2 separate regions of the Homo sapiens genome follow, and region 2 is linked to region 1. A link means that fine-mapping ties the variant in region 1 to the expression of a gene that starts in the linked region. Tissue or cell type: esophagus muscle. Region 1 holds a variant in brackets; the other region holds the start of a gene. All regions are shown on one strand. Distances are between the middles of the regions.

Region 1 (10,444 bases):
TTGCTTTAGTTTCTAGTCGAGTGTTAGAAGATCCAGGTAATAAATGTAGAAGATAAATTGCAAAAGGGCAGAATTTTTTAGAATGCACATATATTTTATGTTTCTTTTGTTTCAACAGTGAAATTTCAAATTCTAAGAGGCAATTGAGAGTGCTGAAATGACAGCAAGATAATAAGGACCTTCAGTAATTGTGAAGTTTAAAGACAACCCTGATAATATTTTTTATTAATTGATGTTCCATATAGACTTTGTACTTTTCTTCCTTTTCTACCCCTTCTCCATTTGAATGAGACTTGAACATTTACCTTTTACATAGTGGATTGAATTAATTGTGTATTCAGAACACTTTTCCAAATAAGTAGTATCTGAATGCTGCAGTAGCAGTTATGAAATCAATAACTCATCGTGCCCTGTGTTTTATTGGGAGTGTTGAATATTTATTGGGAGTTATGAATAACTGGAGGCAGTGTAGCATAGTGCTTAAATACCTAGTTTACAGGGTCAAATAATCTGGATTCAGCTCTGCTACTTACTGTTTCTTTGACCTTGGGAAGATTCCTTAAGCACTCTGAGCATCGGTTTATATCTTTTAAAATGGGGATAAAAATAAGGTTAATGTAGAGATTAAATGAGGTAATTAAAATAACAATTTTCAGTATTACTGTGTTTAACATAGTGATATAAAATTTTAATCAACACAAAGTGTATATTCTCTACTAGACTGAGGTTTTTATTTTATTAGTTTCACAATAAAAATATTTAGCTTTTTTCTTTTCCCAATTAATGCTTCATTCAGAGTTTGTATATTTTTTGTCATAATTTATGGAGGAGTAATATTGACTGATTTTTGTGAATGGCTAATCACTCTATTAAAAATGAAACAAAACCTTACTATACCATTAGCCAAATATTTTTATATTTTATGTTTGATAATCTAATATTTGTACTGAGGTTAATATCCAAAATATACGAAAATGTTGATATGATTTTGGCTGAGGAAAACTAACCTTTTAAGTATTTCTTGGAGGATTCTGTTACCTACGTCTCACTTTTATTTTTAAAACTCACCTTTCATCAGGGATTTTATTATGGCTGGTTTTGCTTAACATGTATGAAGAGGTGAAATTTTCACTTTTCTTTTTAATTACTTGGATAACAGTTGGTTAGGGACAGGTCTTTTTAGGTGATATGCCTCGTCTTTTTTGCAGAAGAAAGCTACATTAGGTTCTGAGAAACTTTATTTTTCAAAACTGGTAGATATTAATTTAAATTGCATCAAATCTCTATATGGCTCATATATTTTTATCTAGCTCATATATTCCTTAAAACCTATCAAAATTGTTACTGAATTTTCTTTCTAAGCCATTTATTGTCACAGTCATTGTGAAACTCCCTAATATCATTTGATGTTGATGAGACAATAAAAATAAGTTTCTTATAAAATGGGAGAGATCAGATTATTCTCAAGGCTACTAAGCTGCCGTTTAAGATGAAAACAACCTTCCTAGTGACCAGTATAAAAATAATTTAGTTTTATTTACTATTATTGGTGCTTATTTGCAAATGGAGCCATAACTTATCTTTGCTGCTGAAAGCAGGAATATGTTAGAAACTTCCCTAAATGAGTGTCTTTTCCCATATTACCCAACTACCCACTTGTGTTTATTAAATGAACGCAGGTATGACGTAAAGATCAGACAAGAAATTTAACAGTGTTATCTTTAGAAGTGTAAATAATTTCATGAGTATGTTGACCTTGTAGCAGAAGTCAGAAATGGCCTTTGAACATGGGTGTATTGATGATGATAATGGGACATATCATGGAAGATAAGTAATTTTAGTACTGTGAGGGAGGGGCCATTCTGATATTGGAAGGTAAAGGCCTGAAGTTAGAATCATAGAATCATAGATAATTGGAGCTAAGGTCATCTATTCAAATTGCTTACTCATTGGCATAGCTAAGACTTGAATCCAAATCTTATTTCTGACTTGGTACAAAGCATAGCAGGAACAGAAAACACTTAGCCCTAGAACAGAGTGGGCACTTGGTCTTTGGGAGGGACGCATGCATGGAGAGGTAGTATCAGATTAGTTGCATGGCTGTCAATACAGCCTGATCTGGCCGCTTATTTTCTCCGTTACTCTCCTGACTGGCATTTAAAGGAGTGGAATGTCGTCTGACACAACCATATGAAACTATCAACATTGTAAACGGGTGGTAATATAAACCATATCTACAATTAAACAAACAGTCAAGATACATTTATTTAGCATCTGCAAATGCTTAGCAAAATTCTAAGAATTTTAGGATGTATAGAAAAGAGTGAGACATGACCTATGTATACCCTTTAGGGGCTTACAACTTAGTTGGGGAGTTACCTATAAAACGGTAACTAACACTCTTGGGTGCCAAATGAAGGTGTGGCTAGTGAATGCCAGAGGAGTTTGGAAGTGGAAGAGGGCCTTGTGGGTTACAGTGCTAATATAGGGTTTCCCAGAGATGAAAATCAAGTTTGGTTGCTTCTCACCTCGTTAGAGCTTTTGAATAATTTTATGTGTTCAGCTGTAAAGGTTTTGGATTCACTTAACTTGTTACAGAGCCTGGACTTGATTGCAAGTGTTTCCCTGACTTCCAGTGAAGTGCCGTTCTGCAATTGCACAATGTTGTGCACAGGTTGGCAGGAGGTTTCTGTTGGAAGAAGCCCATTTTTGCTTATTAGTCTTCATTGTGTTCACCAGCAGATCAAATTCACCCCACTGGTCTTCTGGATGTTTTATGATGGAGCACCCCCAGTTTCAGTTACCCGGAGCCCCTGTTGTTTCTAGATTGCGAAAATAGCTAAAATTATTATTTAAATATGAGTTTGGTGGATCTTTTCCTTTAAGGTAATCTTTCTACTAAGAAACTATTAAAATGAGGTGGGTATTTGTTTACAGTATATGAAACATAGCAGCAGCTGGCATTTACAGTGGGCTTCTGTTGTTCAATTAGATTATTTTGGTGTTCTGTTATGAATCATTAACTTGAAGATTGGTACATAAATAAAGCCATTAAAAATAATAAGTAAATTTAGAAATAGCTGCATCAGAGAATAAATATACTTATCAAAAACCCATTTTGTTTTCCCTCTACCTGGATATTTTTGTATTCAAATGGTATTTCTCATTTTAGCACAAAGAAAGGCCTATAAAGCTGACAGTTGAATTTAGTCTAACCAAGAAATATGAAATACATTAGAGCTTGAATTATATAGTGCAAACCTCAATCCACTGCTGATTCTTTAAGGCAGTGTTTTTTAACCTTTTTCTTTTTTTCTTTTATTCTTATTTTAATGTAGTGAACCCTTCTTCAAAGAAAATCTTGGTTGGAATTCCATTATTGAAAAAAAAAAAACCAGATAAAAAGCAGAGTGGCTCTGATTGAGGCAGTTCAGAACTCTGTTCACTTAGCACCTGCTCCCCCTGGCCCTTGAGACTCCAGGGAATCATTAGGAGACCATGAAGCACAGACTGAAAAATAATTGCTTTGAAAGAAAATCTAACTAAACACTTCCTAAAAATCAGCTGTTAATTGGGAAAAAAATTCTTAATGCCTTATAGTTGGGTGGATTATGAAAGTTACTTGATCCTTCTTATCCATCTTTACTGCTTTTGGACAAGAGTGTTGTGTTATGATTTATTGAAGAAAAATACAGAAAAGTCAACTTCCTGAAGTTCAATATACAGATATATATGTAGTAATCGACGTATGTTCTCTTTCTTTCTTTCTTTCTTTCTTTCTTTCTTTCTTTCTTTCTTTCTTTCTTTCTTTCTTTCTTTCTTTCTTTCTCCCTCCTTCCTTCCTTCCTTCCTTCCTTCCTTCCTTCCTTCCTTCCTTCCTTCCTTCCTTCCTTTTCTTTTCTTTTTGTGAGATGGAGTCT[T/C]GTTCTGTCGCCAAGGCTGGAGTGCAGTGGCATGATCTGCTCACTGCAACCTCCGTCTCTCAGGTTCAAGCAATTCTCCTGCTTTAGCCTCCCGAGTAGCTGGGACTACAGGCATGCGCCACCACACCTGGCTAATTTTTGTTTTTTTAGTAGAGACGGGGTTTCACCATGTTGGCCAGGCTGGTCTTGAACATCCTGACCTTGTGATCTGCCCACCTCAGCCTCCCAAAATTCTGGGATTACAGCCGTGAGCCACTGTGCCCAGCCTTTTTTTTTTTTTTTTTTTTTTAAATGAGCCAGGGTCTCATTGCTCTGTCACCCAGGCTGGAGTGCAGTGGTGTGATCAGAGCTCACTGCAGTCTCGATCTCCTTGGCTCAAGTGATCCTCCCACCTCAGCCTCCTGAGTAGCTGGGAGCACAGGCATGTGCCACCATGACTGGCTATGTTAATTTTTTTTTTTTTTTTTTTTTTAGAGACAGGGTCTTCCTATGCTGCTCAGGTTGGTTTCAAACTCCTGAGCTCAAGTGATCCTCCTGCCTTGGCCTCCAAAGTGCTGGGATTACAGGCATGAACCACTGTGTCCAGCCCACATATTTCTTTCTGTGTATATTTATACTTACAGCATAAGTATAATTTCTTTTAAAAACCACTTTCTTCATAAATATCTTCAGCTGTGAAGTAAAACTATCAGGTAAGAGATGGAGACAGTCATTTGTGTGTACATACACCACACACACAAACTAACACACACACACATAAAATTTATGGCATGTGGTTGTGCAGTGCTGTTCAATCAAGGCCTCCAGAACTTATATCACATTCTGAGTATGATGTAGTTTATATGGACAGCTAAGTGGTTAATTAATTTCTTCAATGAAACTGTATTGAACACTGAGCACTTAAGTGCAAAGCACTTAAGTATAGTAGTGAACAAGTGTTTCTGCTCGCGCAGAACTCACAACTGATTAGGGGTAAGGATGAGAAAATCAGGTGTGATAAATGCTGTGCTAGGGGGAGCATAGAGTTTTATGGGAACACATAGGAAGGAAATCTAAGTCAGATTTGGAGAGTCGGAGTGGACTTCCTGATAGTGACATCTAAGCTAACCTGAAGGATGGGTAAAGCTGGCCAAAACAAAGAAAGGTGGGAAGAGTGATGTAGACAGAAGGGAGAGATGTATAAGGGCCCAGAGACAAGTAAAAGTGTGGCATATTCTAGAAATTGTATGGAGGTGGGTTTGGTTGAAGCATGATGTGCTGTGAAAGAGAGGAACTGGCCCAGCACGGTGGCTGGTACCTGTAATCCCAGCACTTTGGGAAGGTGGGTAGATCACTTGAGCTCAGGAGTTTGAGATTAGCCTGGGAAACATGATGAAACTCCATCTCTACAAAAAATACAAAAATTAGCCAGGTGTGGTGGCACATACCTGTGGTTCCCGCTACTTGGGAGGCTGAAGTGGGAGGATTGCTTGTGCCTGGGAGGCAGAGGTTGCAGTGAGCTGAGGTCGCACCACGGCACTCCAGCCTGGGTGACAGAGTGAGACCCTGTCTCAAAAAAAAAAAAAAAAAAAAAAAAAAGTGGAAGTGATGAGACTAGGAATCTAATCATAATTAGCCTTATATGCTAAATCTAAGCAGCTTGATATTATCCTATAGAAAATGAGGAGTTATTGAACGATTTAAAGTAAGAGAAAGTTAGGATGATTTCTATTTTTTTCATGAATGCTCACTTTGGCTCACTACCATGTTGACCTTTGGGCAGCTGTTTGGATGATAGAGTCATTCTCTGAAAGTAGAAGAACCAGAGAGTATAAAATGCTGTGTAGTTTGTCTTTCCATAACATCCCCAATTGCCTCTATCCTTTATAAAATCCATCTTTCTTCATTTTATTTTTATGGCCCTTTTAGCCTTATCTCAAGGCTGGAATAATTCCAAAGAACAATGCTTAATGTTCAATATCTATATAGATACTATACAGAAACGTCTTTACTCTTTCGGTATAGAAACTGATATGATGCCTGGCACTTAGCAGATATTCAGTAAATGTTTATTGATGTGAAAGGGGTAAATACCAAAAGAAGAGATGTTGATTCAATTTTTTTTTTTGGTAAGATTTCTCTGCTTTTCCTGACATGTCCTTTAGATGCAGACAATTTCAATGTCAGCTGTTTCTTAACAAACTTACAAGGGTACAACCATTGTATAATAGTACTACTAATGATAATTAATAAAACATTGTACATTTTAAATAGTCTTCAAAGTCACAAGCTTTTTGCTTTACTAGTGGATCTCAAATTCAATTAACAGTTGGATATGCTGATATAATATTCAAAGAATAGTGAAAAGCTTTAACTCATCTCAATGATTATTCTTTGGAAATTAGTGTAGAAGGATAATTTATAAATTGAAAAAAATTTTTTATATGTGCAAGGGAACTTCTTTTCTAACAAATTTCTGAGAATGATCATAAAGGGGACTTATTTTAAAACAATATTTTAGGCGGAGCACAGTAGCTCACACCTGTAATCCCAGCACTTCCGGAGGCTGAGGCTGGTGGACCACTTGAATTCAGGAGTTTGTGACCAGCCTGGGCAACATGGTGAAACTCCATCTCTACAAAAAATATAAAAAATTAGCCAGGCCTGGTGGTGTGCATCTGTGGTCCTAGCTATTGGGAGGCAGAAGTGGGAGGATCACTTGAGCCTGGGAATTGAGGCTGCAGTGAGCCGTGATCATGCCACTGCACTCCAGCGTGGGCAACAGAGGGAGACCTTGTTTCAAAAAAACCCCAAAAAACAACAAAAAACAACCCACCACCAATATTTCATATTGTATTTAACTTAGTAGTTTGTAACATTATTTTCATGGTATTACTTAAATAAAATGAAATTACCTGATTTACCTTTTGAAGCTAAAACCCATATTTTAAAGTATTGCTCAGATTCAGAAAATTAGCACATTCAAAGCTGTTTTTCCAGTAGTTTAAACTCATTACTGACTTTATTTAATAAGTAATCAAATTTTTTTCATATTTAGCCAGTGGGATCACCAGGCAAGCTCCCGTCTCCTTTTGATGTACTTCCATCTTTTTTCTAAGCACTTCTTAGTGGCCAAAGAAAATGTTTCAGGCTCATCTTAAACCTTCCCCACCACAGCCCCAGAATCAACCTTTACTCTGAAGATTGCTGATTCTTTGGAGTAGGGAATGGTATTAGACCCTAAGAATTGAGTACTACATATACTCATTGCTACTTCTATATGGTTTTGCTTCCAGGGCCCCACAGCATTCTTCCCTGATTCCCACTGTGTATTTTTATCTCCCTTTTCCCACAGTCACCACTGTTCTCCCAACTCATTTGCTGAGTCCTACAATGTATCTTAAGTAGTTTCACAATTGTTTCTCTCACTGTTTGCATTCCCCACCCCCCAACTTCCCAGCCCAAATACCGCCTATAGTATTTGACTCTATACCCTTGGGTTGGGTATAATTAAATAACTGTGTCCTAAAGTTAATTGGATTAGTCCCTTTTCCTGCCCCACCATAGTTGATGACTGTTTAATTCACTCCCTTGTTTAGATTTTAAGTGTCCGATGGGGCAAAGACCATTTCTTTAGATATATCTCATATAGAATCAAAATGTGTGGTATAAATCAAGAATATTAATGAGATTGTTTTGCCCTGCATTTAATATCTTTCGTTAGACACTCTCACTAAAACAAAGTGAAGTGTGCAGTTTTTTTCTTTCCTCTTCCTCTTTTTCCCCCTCTTTCTTTCCTTCCCTCCCTTCCTTCATTTCTCCTTTTTGCTTCCTTTTTTTGTTTTTTGTTTCTTTTTGATATGGAACATTTCTCTACCTTACTGCATTTTACTCAGAATAGTAGAGGCATTTCTCCTATTAATGACATACATGCATTCCTGAAAAATCTTTAATTCTGCAAAATTAAACCATAAAATTTTAGGGCTTATAAAGAAAATAGGGCTAGGAACAGATCATTTGAAACCAGTGACATTTTGTAAACAGAGCTGAGAAAATAGAAGTTGTCATAAAAACGAGCACTATTAACTCCCTCCTTGCATTTGCACCCAGCATCACATCAGTCTTAGCTTGAAACCCTGGTTTTCTTCCTTTGTTGTAGGTCCTTAAAGTCATCTACTTCTAATACAGACCAATTTCATCAAAGTTGAAAATCTGCTCTAGGATATTGATCTGTTGATTTTATTCTATTTTAAACACAGGGGAAAATATCTTTGCATTTCTTCGTTGGTATGCTCAGCCTCCTTTAACAGTGGAAAGTCTTGAAGCCACCAAATGAGACTTTCACTTTAATTGGGAGAAGACTTGCTCTTGGTTGAATCAAAACCTTCATGTACTGGGGAAAATTGTGTATGAACCAGCATAGCTTTCACATAAGACTGACGTCATTTTCCTATATATGAGCTAATTTACATTAAGAAATAGCTATTGTAGCAGAAAAGACTGTAATATTAATTTTGTTTTAGTATATAAAGATACTAAATACCTATTACTGAAGATTTAAGTAATATGGAAAAATATAAAGCATAAAGTGAAATTCCTTTCATTGCAAATAAATACTGTCATCATTTTGGTTCATATTCTTTATTATTTGACCTCTTTCTATGATGATGATGATAAGGATGACGATGAGGATGATGCTGTGTGTGTATAAAATTTCACATAAATGGGTTCATATTAAAAATGCAATTTTCCAACTTTTTTGGAGGAGAATCTCAAGCAATATAACGATATATTGTTCTTTTTAATGATTGCAGATTACTCTACTGTATGCATGTCATAATTTATTTACATATTTGTGAACATTTGGTTGTTTTCATTTTTTCACTGCAATAAAAATGGTATGTTGAATATCGTTGATCATATCTTTGCATCCATAAAATAAATTCCTGGAGTGGTGTTTCTGCATCAGAAGGTATATTCATGTAACATTTTGGTACATATTACCATATTAAATTTGTCAGTTTGATAGACTAAAGTAGTACTTTGTTTTTATTTATATTGATTTTATTATTAGTGTGTTTGTACATCTTTTTATGTCTTTATATACTGTCCATATTTTGTTTCAGTGAAATACCTTTCTCTCAAAATTATTGTCTTTTTTCTTATACTTTATAAGAATTGTGTAATTTTAGAGATACTGATATTATAATTTTTTATGTCCTGCTGATTGTCTTTTAACATTATTTATGGTATGTTTTGATTTTTATGTAGTGAAATCTATCAGTATTTATCTTTCATGTTTTCTGGATTTTGTAAAATGTTCAGAAAGACCTCTTTCTACCCTTAAAAGACTGTTGCCTTTATTTTCTCTTGTTATTTTTATATTTCTATTTATTACATATAATGTTTGGCTTATCTGGAATTTATTTTCTTATAATGAATTTAATAAATATCTAGCTTTGATTTTATTCTCCTTCCAAATTGTAGCTAATTGTTTCAACATAACTTGTTAATTCAACTTCTCTTCCCAATATGAATGTCGACTTTATCAAATACCAAGTTTCTTTGCGCCCTTGGGTCTTTTTGTGCATTTTGTATTGTATTAGTCATTTCTGCAAAACAAATAACCACCCAAATCAGTGGCTTAACACATTTATTATCTCACACAGTTTCCATGGATCATCAGAAATTTAGGAGCGGGTCAGCTTTGTAGTTCTGATTCAGTGTTTCTCTTAAGGTTGAAGTTAAGATTTCAACTCTAGCCACAGTTGATGAAATTTCACAGGTATCTTAAAACAGTGTCTTCCAATTTATAGGCAAGTATGCAGAAATCAAAACAAGGCATATAAGAGTGGAGAATAATCTAAATGAGATCGCAGTTCCATTTGCTGTAATACCACAGGCTCGTTATAATACCTGGACTTTTTGTGCAACAGACACTTGAGTCTGGGTAATGCTGTGCTCCATCTGCTTTTATCTCCAGGCCACTCAGGATGAGCTGCTTTATACTCTGGCCTCTTGGCTGTTCTATTTATTTATATATTTATTTTTACTTTTTCTTTTTTAACATATGCTGCTAACTTGGCCTTTGTTGCCATTTCAGCAAGTGTGCATGCATGTTTGTGGGTACACTTGCACTTATAAGCTAAAAGGACCATAAGCACTCATTCCAAGGGAGTTTATTTCTGTTGCTTTCACCTTAAATTGCATAAATCTTTTCCTCTGGCTTGCATCTTCAGTACTGACTCTGCACTGTTGCTGTTTGAACTCCCCATGGACTTGCAGCTGCCATACATGGGCTGTGGGCACCTTTCCAAATCTTCAAGCCATAGTCTGAATAGATTTTATTTTTGACAGACTAATTGGAGCCTTAATGTGCTTTCCTGATGGGGGAGCCTGTGTTTCTAATTTTTTTGTATTTATCATTTTGTAAAGAGTAGTAATAGTCCCTGGGCTAGCTATAAGTTTGCTGGTTAAATTGTATTTTTCAGTCCTACTTTTTTGTGACTTTCTCTTTCCATTTTTGTCCCTTGGGGTCTAGTGGC
Region 2 (10,444 bases), 24 kb before region 1:
TTGTATTAAAAAACCCCAAACTGGATGATTTACATTATTTTTATTTGTAATAAAAATGAAAGGTTATATATTTAAAATTTTATTCCAAGGTAGTAAGTTTAGAATCAAGTATTTAGTTCATAAATAAAACTGTAATTGCTTGTTTTGTTTTTGTTTTAAGCTCGCTTTTAAATTATTTTTATAAAAGGGGATATACCTTGTTATAAGCATACCTAAAATTGGATTAATAACTATATACCAATCTTACATTTTTTCCAGATGGTACAATTTATATTCAAAATTTTCCAAAACGTTTGAGATGAAGGATATAAATGAAATCTCAAGTGTTTTCATATCAATTCAAATAATAATATCAATTTCATCAGAGTTGCTATAGTAAAAGCTTTTAAAAACTTTATTGAAATGTCATGGTTTGATATGAGCTGACAAATATGAGTTTTAGCTTGAAATAAGTAAAGGGCTATAATTTCAGGTGTTAACAGAAGCCTGTGTGGAAATATATGACATTCAAACAAATGAAATGCAAAAGGCCATTTGGCAGTAATTCTCCAAGTGAGGTTTGAGAACACCTAGGGGTTACTGAAACCCTTCCCGGAGCTTTGTAAGGTCCTCTCTTTTTCAACTATGAATTCGTATGACAGTTAATTTTCTTCATATCTTAGGTATAACAACATATCACAACAGCCTGAATGCAGAGGCAGAATATGAGAATCCAGTGCTCTCCTTAAGCCAGATAATAAGAGATTTATAAAATGTTAAAAATGCCACTTTTCTCTAATTTTTTGGAAAAAAAGTAGTCATTATTTATAAAAATAACTTTTACAGTAACATGTAATGGGTTTAAATTAAGCAAACACATGTCTAACATTTTTCTATCTTAAATTTTAATACAGTAAATATGGACATATATAACCCACATAAACAACAGCTCTTTAAAGTTCTCAATCATTTTTAAGAATGTAAAGAGAACTTGAGATCAAAAAGTAGTTTGAGAACTGCTACTCTATGATACCTTCTATTATTTGCTTACCAATGGTAAGTATGTATAGATAGGAATATATTTTAATATCTATATTTGTGGAATCTGTAAACTTAATTATTTTAACTTTGTTTAAATATCTCTTTGACCATTAGATTTGATGCCTAACTATAGTTTAAATTTGTACCTTAGTTAGGACTTTATGATTCATTTTCCCCTGATGGTATTAACAACAAATAGAGGTCTGCTTTAATATATAAGGAGACAAGGCAAATATATTTGAACTAGATACATAAAGCCAAATATTCAGCTTAGAATTTAATTGATAAATTAGAATAAAATAGGATGCTCTAACTGCTGCTTCTTTTTCTCATAAACTTTTTTCTCCCAAAGATCAGTTTCAGGTTCAGAGCAAAATTGAGCAGGAAGTATAGGGTTCCTATATATTCCTGTACCCCACATCTGCACAGCCTCCCTGACTATGAATATCCTGTACCAGAGCAGTATATTTGTTACAATTGATGAACTTACATTGACATCATTATCACCCAAAGTTGAGATTTTATATTAAGGCTCCCTCTTTGGGTTGTATATTTTATGGGTTTGGACAAATGTATAATGACATGCATCACCATTATCATATCATACAGAATAGTTTCACTGCCCTAAAAATCTGTGCTTCATATCCCCCTCCTCTGTGACCTCTGGCAATCACTGATCTTTTTACTGTCTCCATATGTGATGGTTAATACTGAGTGTCAGCTTGAATGTATTGAAGGATAGAAAGTATTGATCCTGGGTGTGTCTATGAGGGTGTTGCCAAGGAGATTAACATTTGAGTCAGTGGGCTGGGAAAGGCAGACCCACCTTTAATTGGGTGGGCACCATCTAATAAGCTGCCAGTGAATATAAAGCAGGCAGAAAAACATGAAAAGGAGAGACTGGCCTAGTCTCTCAGCCTACAGCTTTCTCCTGTGCTGGACGCTTACTGCCCTCAAACATCGGATTCAAAGTTCTTCAATTTTGAGACTCGGACTGGCTCTCTTGCTCCTCAAGCTTGCAGACAGCCTATTGTGGGACTTTGTCATCATGTAAGTTAATACTTAATAAACTCCTCTTTATATTTATATGTCTATCCTATTGGTTCTGTCCCTCTAGGAAACCCTGACTAATATACCATAGTTCTGCCCTTTCCAGATATTAGCTTCTTTTTAAGTACACTTGATGAATCTTAGTGATAAAATCAGGCCAGACCTAGCAACTCTTTTTGTATGTTTATTGACTTCCCAATACAATAAAGGCCATAAACACCTGTCTTTGTTGTTTATTCACCTACATTCCATCCCAGACTGTCAGTTCCTAGTGACCAGGAGCTCCATTCAATTTGGGGTCATGGTACCAAATAGTTCTTGACTGCTATTTGATGAGGGTGGTCCTGTCACCTAAGTGCTCTTGAAATTAAGTCCTTAAGCACTGGCCGAAAAGAGCTTACTTTGCAGTAATTATTTCAGTGACAAGTAAGAAAAACTGGGACATATCCCCTTCACAGGAGAGCAATTTTGCTCTCTTTAGGAAACTCTTGGAATTTTAGTTATCAGGCTATTTAAGACCCTGAGTAGATTCTTAAACCTTTAGAATAAATTTTGAACCAAGAGTGCCAGAATGTCTGTTATTTACATTAGTATTAAGTGATCTGAAAGTGCACAGAGTAGTTTGGCAGTATCTAGAGGGAGAATAGAGACAGAAATAATGAAGATACAACTGGAGGAGTAAGAAAAGGAGAAAAAAAGTATTTTATGTCTGTTCAGTATTTCTAGGTGCCACTGCTGCTAAATGCCTGGGCTTCAGCCTAGGTTGGGTTGCTCCTAGCAAAGAAAACCAGTCCCTGAGACAACGAGTATTGCCAGGGAAGACAGGCTTTAATGCAGGTGATGCTGGCAGGGAGACCAGTCTCAAACATGTCTTAGGGAGACTAAAGTTAGGGCTTTCTATAGCAGGGAATTATGGAGGGGTAAGGAAGAGGAGTTTGTGAACAGGCAGCAGATGCACCTCATTGTCCAGATGTAGTGTTCTGGAAAGTTGCATTTCCTTGACACTATCTGGGAGGTCTGACAGTTTATCTGCTGAGAAAGGAACTCAGGTAAAATGCACGCAAGTTTCTCAAGTTTCACTTCGAAGGGAAAATTTGGCCGGTTTCGGTCTTCCCTTTCTATTTATCAATTCCTCAATCATGCGGAATCTGGTAGTTGATCTTTCTGGCTGCTTCACGTGAAGGAAGGGCATCTTGGGATGATATGGAATGAAAATATCGCACCTGTAATTGCAAGTACTTACGAGTACCTGGTTGGCATCCAGCTTGTTGGAGCACCATGATTTGGGTACTTTCATCAACATTTTAAACCACATTGAATTAGGATAATTAATAACATGGATAAGAAGGTTTCTTTGTAGGTTGTAATAACCCAGTTAAGAGTTTGTACCATTCGGCCGGGCGCAGTGGCTCACGCCTGTAATCCTAGCACTTTGGGAGGCCTAGGTGAGCGGATCACGAGGTCAGGAGATGGAGACCATCTTTGCTAACACGGTGAAATCCCATCTCTACTAAAAATACAAGAAGATTAGCCGGGCATGGTGGCGGGGGCCTGTAGTCCCGGCTACTAGGGAGGCTGAGGCAGGAGAATGGCGTGAACCCGGGAGGCGGAGATTGCAGTGTCGCTCTGGCGACAGAGCGAGACTCCGTCTCAGGAAAAAAAAAAAAAGAGTTTGTACCATTTGAGGGCAAAAGCTTCAGTATGAAATTCCCGTTTCTCTCAAGTAAACCGCCTGTCCTGTGTTACTCACTTTGTTTTACCTGGAGGCAGCAAAACTGAATAGTTTTCCTGAGTGCTCATGAGTAGGAAAAAATGAAATGAAGAGTTGCCCAGAGATCGCTAGTGAGGTGCTTTGCCACTACTGCCCTGTACTTAAGTAACTGTGAGGGTTCTCTGTTTCCTGGCTTCTAAAACAAGAGGAAGAGCTGAAGACACAGTTTCATAGACTTTTCGGCTCTTTATTGTAGTCTCCCCCATTAGTACGTTGCTGAGCTTAGGGCAAGTGCTCAATAATAGCTTGCTGAATTAGTGTTGTGTTTGATCCTTTCAGATCCACGCCGCATTTTGAGCCCGACCTGGGCGGGCGGTCCAGAGACCAGTTTTCCGCCGGGGGCGGAGCTTCGGGCGGCCAGCGCGCGACGGGGCAGCGGGGCGGAGCTTGCCGCCGGCGGAGGGCGGGGTCTGCGCGGGGACTTCCCCCGGGCTGAGCTGCGCAGCGGGTGCGGAGGGCGGGCGCCCGGCGTCCGGCGGCGGGTGGGGGGCTGTGAGGCTGGCAGGGGTCGGCGGGCGCGTAGCCGCCGACCCTTGGTGGTCTCTTGGGCTGGGGACCCTTCCCTGGGAGTCGGCCCCGGCCCCGGCGGGGCGGGCGTTGCCGGGAGGCGGAGGGGTGCGCGGCCGCGAGTCCTGCGTGATCGCGAGCATGTGTGCGTGCGCGTGTTTATCTGAGGCGCGTGCGGCGGCCACCCCAGCCTAGTCCTCTTCTTGGTGCCACTGGCTAACTAGGTTGAGAAACCGGCGCCACAGGCGGCACACCTGGCCCGGAGCTGGCCCGCTCCTCCCCGCCGAGCCGGCGCCCCAACAACGCGCCCTCTCCCAGTCCTCACAAAGGGGCCTAGTCCGGCCCCCGGCTCTGGCCGTGAGGGAGCGCTGTGGGGGCGCGCTGCCTTCTGCCTGGAAGTGTTGGGCAGGTGGTGGGAGAGCGTCAGGCTTGAACAACATGATTTTAAAGCACGTGTCTGTCTGTCGTTTTTTACTTTTAGGGTTTTGGCCAAATTGGGCGAGGGCACAAAATAACCACTTACCCCTTCTCACCGAGGAAGAGCGGGAGAAAGGGTAAGTAAGGAATGGTCAGGGGTGGAAGGACCTAGGACTTTATCCTGAGAGCGAGCGAGAGAGAGAAGGGCTAGATGTCCAGAACTGCTCGTGGGGAACTTGGGCCCAGATTCTACCTTTTCATCGGGAACTGGAGGACCCACCTTCAAAGTCACAGGCTCCAGGCCCCGGACTGTTTTCAGCCTCACACAGTCTATAGAGTTTAACAGCTTGGGCATGTGGATCCCTTTTAGCCCCTTGACCCGACAGAAAACTGCACTTCCCCTTTACCTGTTTTTACCTTGGAACATTGGTCCTCTCTAGTTGTCTGTCTCCGGCCCCTATCTTATTAGCCAGCTTTGACTAATCCCTGAGACCATAGCACTAAAGAATCCAGGTCCTGTTTGATAATGAACAGTAACCCCCCTAGGGATGTTTACATTTTAAAAGGGTACTCCTGAAAAAATCCTTTAGGACCCCAAAGCATAAAGTTAGTAACAAGATTACAAGTGTTGAAGTTCTTTGGGATCTCTCAAGCTTACAGAAGAAGATGTTTTGAGGGGAGAGAGATGACCAGGCTGGGCCTTTTTCTCTGGGCTTTCACTCTTGGTACCTCCTGGCAAGCATTCCATTCACTTTTGAAAAGTTGCCAAAAAGGACACTGAAGTTCTCTGAGGCTTACTGTGATTTTCAGTGTGGTCTATTTCATTGGTTCTTCTGTGGGACTTTTCTATCACTTCTTTAATACACTGCTTCCCTCTCCCCTGTATGGTGAAATGAAACACAGCTCCTCTCACAAGGTTGGGAGCTCATTATGCATCCTATATGTCACATATAAATAACCGTTTTAAATTAGTTGAAATTCAGATTAGCTACAAGCAGGAATGTAGTAAAACTGCATTCTTGGATTCTTACACAGGAAAAGTAGAATTGCCCTCTGTGATAGGCTGCCTATTCTGATACTGGCTGCCTGTGTCCTGAACGTGCCTATTTGTTTGTGCTCAAGTGATAGGTGACCACATAATTTATGGAAAACAGGAAGTGATTGTTTATTGATAATGGGTTCCTTCATTGATTCAATAGCTAATTCTCTCTTACCATGTGCTACGCACTTTTATCAGCACTTTGATAAAAGTAGGATGGTGAGAATGATGAGATTGTATTGGAGATGGCTGTTTTGGGGTAGGCCTTTCACCAGTTTTGTGGATTTTCTCAATAGTTACATGTTAATTTACAAGACTTTCCCTGTACTACTGATCATAGTGGTTTGCAGGTCTATACAGTGTTGTGGGAGAACAGAATTATTATTCCGCCTTTCTAGTACTTTCAGTAATAAACTTACAAGGATGGCTGACCTTGATGATTTGTTTCCTATAATGAATAATGTTATAGTCATTTTCCAGTGTACGAGTATAATAATTAGATGAGGATAACTTTTGTAGTTGTTCCATAAGAAGGACCTAATATTAGGAATCATGGAGAGTGTAAAGGATGATGTACTTAGAAAAATAAATTCGAAAGTAGACCATTTTTAACTTGCATGGGTTTCTGTGCATTTAGCCTCATTTAAAAGATCTAAGCTAGAATAGTTCTTTGTCTTTTTCTGGTTATAAGAGTAATAAAAAGTCAAAAAAAAGTTATTTAGAATTAAATCTGGGAGGGTATAAAAGGCAATAAGTGAGTTTCCTATGAGTCCACTTTCAGATGACCACTTAACAATTTGATACTTGTTTCTTCAACTTTTTGTTCCATATATACACATACTAAATATGCAGCTTAAGTATATGTTAAACATGTATACATCTTAACTGCGTATTATATATGGAACATATGTGGAACATAATACATGTTTTATATATATATATTTCACTGTTATTTGATAAAATTGTAAATTTCTTTCTTTTTCTCCTTCTTCTTGGCTATTTACCACCCCTCCTCACTCCACCCCACAACTTCATGTAGAAGTAGCATGACTTTTACAGTCTTTTGGACATGAGCTTGATTTCTGGCTCTTATTTTATTAGCTGTGTCACTTTGGGCCATTAAAATTTCTCTGCTGCTTGATTTCTTATCCATCAAAACAGAACAAAGAGTATATATAAAAGAATGTGTGAAAAAACAGTGCCTGGCATAGAAGTACTTACTTTTAAATTTCCCTCCCTGTTTTTCTATGTGGTCACCCATTACTTTCCTATGATCTTCCTTTTGATTGTGGAAAGCCATGTAGTGCCTAACTTTCCTATAGCTGTTAAGCCTCCCTGGGATTTGCTTTTCACAGGGGTTCACCTGGTGTATCTGATCCTAGAATTTCTGGGACGAGGACTGACACCTGATGTGGCCTTATCAGATCATTCCACAGCCTTGGATAAAGAGTGTCAGCTTGAAAAATGAAGGGAAAGAATTTCTATAATGTGTTTAAAAAGCCCTGACACTATTCTTAAAGTGAGAAAGACATATTACTGTATTTAGCTGAGTACTTAAACTTAGGATTTCCATTTTGGAAATGTCTTTGGTTTATAAGGATTACAATAAAAATGCTGATGCTTCATGTCCAAACTGTCATGATTTTGCCAAGTTGTGGATTTAATATACAGCTTAGCTGTGTATTTAGTATATCTGATACTGCTCTGGAAACTGAGAAAGACAAGTTCACAGACATCTGATTTCACACCAGACATCTGGTTTCACTTTACTGAGGAGTATGTTTTGTCAGTAGATTATAGGCATATTAACTGTACTGCTATAGTTTGTGGCATTTCTCTCATAAGCTGTGGTCTGTAGGGTTTAGTATGATGTTTTAGTCAAATGACAGCCCACCGAAAATGAGCACCTGGTCAGATAAGCACATTTCCCATAGGTTTCTTCTAGTGTCATTGTTCTTACAAGTTAACAAGGCAAAATCATTCTATCTTTGGTGGCTTTTGTATTTTTTGTGGAAGCAAGAAAATATTCTTAAAGAAAAGCCTTACTTAAGAACCCATTGTATTCCACAAGTTCATTTTCAAGTCTGTTGTTTGTAAAGTTAACAATGTACTTATAGGAATAAATAGCATTTAGATTTCCAGATCAGAACCCCAGGAAATCTAGTACTTACTTTCCTAAAGGTACTAAGGAAAGCTTTTTAAACTCATTGTGTGCTTATTATATATTAGTGGTACTGTAGACTCTAATCAACATATATAATAGTGTTTTGGAGGTAAGTGTCTCCTGAGTGCCAACCTAGAATGGCTGGACCACGTCTCCCTCCATTTTGAGGTAGTGAGGGGTATAGAAAAAGCTCTGGAGGTTGTCATTCTTAGGTTTTCAGGCAGGGCCTGTTATTGCTTAACTGTTGACCTTGGACACAAATTCCTCATCTATAAATGGGATAATTACTTATGATTACTGTGAAATTCAGTGAGTGAGTGTAATGTGGCACAGAATCTGCCGTAAAATAAATTCTCAGTAAATAGTTGTTTCATTTTTCCTCAAAGTCCTAGACACAAGAACAAAGATACCCTTCTATCCCTTGCCCTTGCATCCAGATTAAGTCACTGGCCTGGACCTGTGGCTCCATTGGAGGGGAACTACCCATGGTATTGGGGATTTGGTAGTGAGGACTCAGAAGGGGTCATGCAGAATAATGACAAAGGAGAGGGGTTGTGAACTGAGAGAAAGGTGGCAGTCTTTTGCTCAGTCCATGAATTTAGATCAATGAATTACTTGTTTCCTAGAAAGAACCATCTTTTTCTCTGGCTTCTCTGTTGATCTTTGTCAACTGTTCCGCTGGAAACTCTTACCTTCTTAATGTCTACTTAGTCCAATAATAAGTTTTTTTCTTTGTCATCTTCATACTACCTGAATAACCATATTTTTCTATTTTTTTTAATGGTTAGGACTTAGTAATGGATATCTGTACTACAGTAACAGATGTCTGTACTAAAGATGTCTGTACGTTCTTAAGATCTGGTGTTTTTTTTTCTATACTCAAAGTCCAGTTGATTTTCTTGTTCTTTCATTGACTCGTACCTTATTCATTAACCTCGCCCCTCCTTTTTTTAGTATATCTATCTGCATTGAGCTAGTAATGTACATGGAACTAGTGACTGTGTGAATTGAACTAGTTAGGAGGATATAAAGATGAAAAGTCATCTTTGACCAAGGATCTTATAGTCTGTAGGACTACAGATATCTTGACCAATAGTTCAAATACTGTATGCTATTTGCTATAACAGAGGTAGGTACAAGTACAAATGAAATCTAGCAAGAGCTCTTGATCTCTGCCTGCAATACCAGGTAAGGGTTTTAGTAGTGGTTGTGTTTGAGCTGAGACTTGAAAACTGAGTAGGAGTGGGCATGTTGACAAGCAATAGAAAGCATTTCTAGGTAAAGCTAACAGCATGAGTAGTTGTGTGGCATTACGAGAACATAGTGTATACTGGGAACTATATGTAGGTCAGTTATATTAGAGTGTGAAGGACAAGGTCAGGAGTGAAAGGAGATGAAACTGGTTAGCCAGTTCAGGGTACACTTCCTAGATGAAACTGGATAGCCAGTTCAGGGTACACTTCTTATACCATGTGTAGTAGTGAGCCACTGAAGAATTGTGAGTGTCATGGAAGATCACTGAAAGCAGTGTGCTGGGTAGATTGAGGGTAGAGTGGGGTTGGGTGTGGGGTCATGGCAAGACTGGAAGCTTTCAAGGACAGTACATCAGTAGGGATAAGAGAGGTTGAAAGCTTAGATAAAGGTGGAAGTAGTGGGAATAGAGAAGTGAGAATGTTTAGGAAAAGTAAGATGAGGGAGAATTTGCTGGTCTTTGTGACTGTTTGAATGTAAAAGATATGGGAGAGGGAGAATGTTAGAATGCTTCCTAGGTTTCTGGGTTGTGAGTGGGAAAAGAGAAGAGGAAGAAGGTATGAGGGAGAAGAGAATGAGTTCAACTTTGGACCTGTGTTTAACATGCTCGCAGGGCATATCATTGGCAAGTGTGAGATGTCTAGAAGGCAGTTGGATATAGGATCCTGGAACATCACAAGAGATTGCAAAGGCTGGAGAAACAGATTTGTGTGTTCTTACCATATGGAGAGTAACTGAAGTATCCATAGATACGGATAAAAGTACATAGAGGAATTGTATAGAAAGAGAAGAGAAAAGGGCTAAAAATTAGTCTTAGAGAATGTAAAAATTTAAAGGAGAAACCATAAAAGAGAAAGATGTAAAGATGCTGAAGGAGAGTGGCCATTAAGTATGATGATGATTGTAAAGTTACAATCATCAATGACTGTTAGAAGTCACTGGTTTCATTGTAGTGGTGGAGGTAAAGCTATCGTGCTGTGGGTAAAGGACTGAATAGGAGATGAGGCTGAAGGGGGCTGGACATGAGAATAGAGAGTAGATATGCTTGGGTCCCTCTTAGGAGATAATTGTTCTTCAGTCAGGGTATTTACTTAATACATTTTATTGTGTATATTTAAGGAAAATAACATGTTATGGAATACATGTAAATAGTAAAATGGTTACTGTAGTGAGACATAGTAACATCCATCATCTTACATAGTTATCCATTTTTGTGTGTATGACA

Evidence for each region.
Region 2: IMMP2L starts here. The variant in region 1 is fine-mapped to the expression of IMMP2L in esophagus muscle (GTEx, PIP 0.98).

The regions. Positions count from the first base shown.
Region 1 is chr7:111,532,582-111,543,025 of GRCh38, reverse strand. All of the region lies in intron 1 of IMMP2L (inner mitochondrial membrane peptidase subunit 2), which reads left to right. Among named protein-coding and RNA genes, the nearest start is that of IMMP2L, 25 kb to the left of the region's middle. The variant T/C (reference allele first, on the strand shown) is at 3,921.
Region 2 is chr7:111,556,309-111,566,752 of GRCh38, reverse strand. IMMP2L (inner mitochondrial membrane peptidase subunit 2) reads left to right here and starts at 4,261. Exons shown (of 6, transcript NM_032549.4): 1 at 4,261-4,902. RefSeq lists a silencer at 4,100-4,729.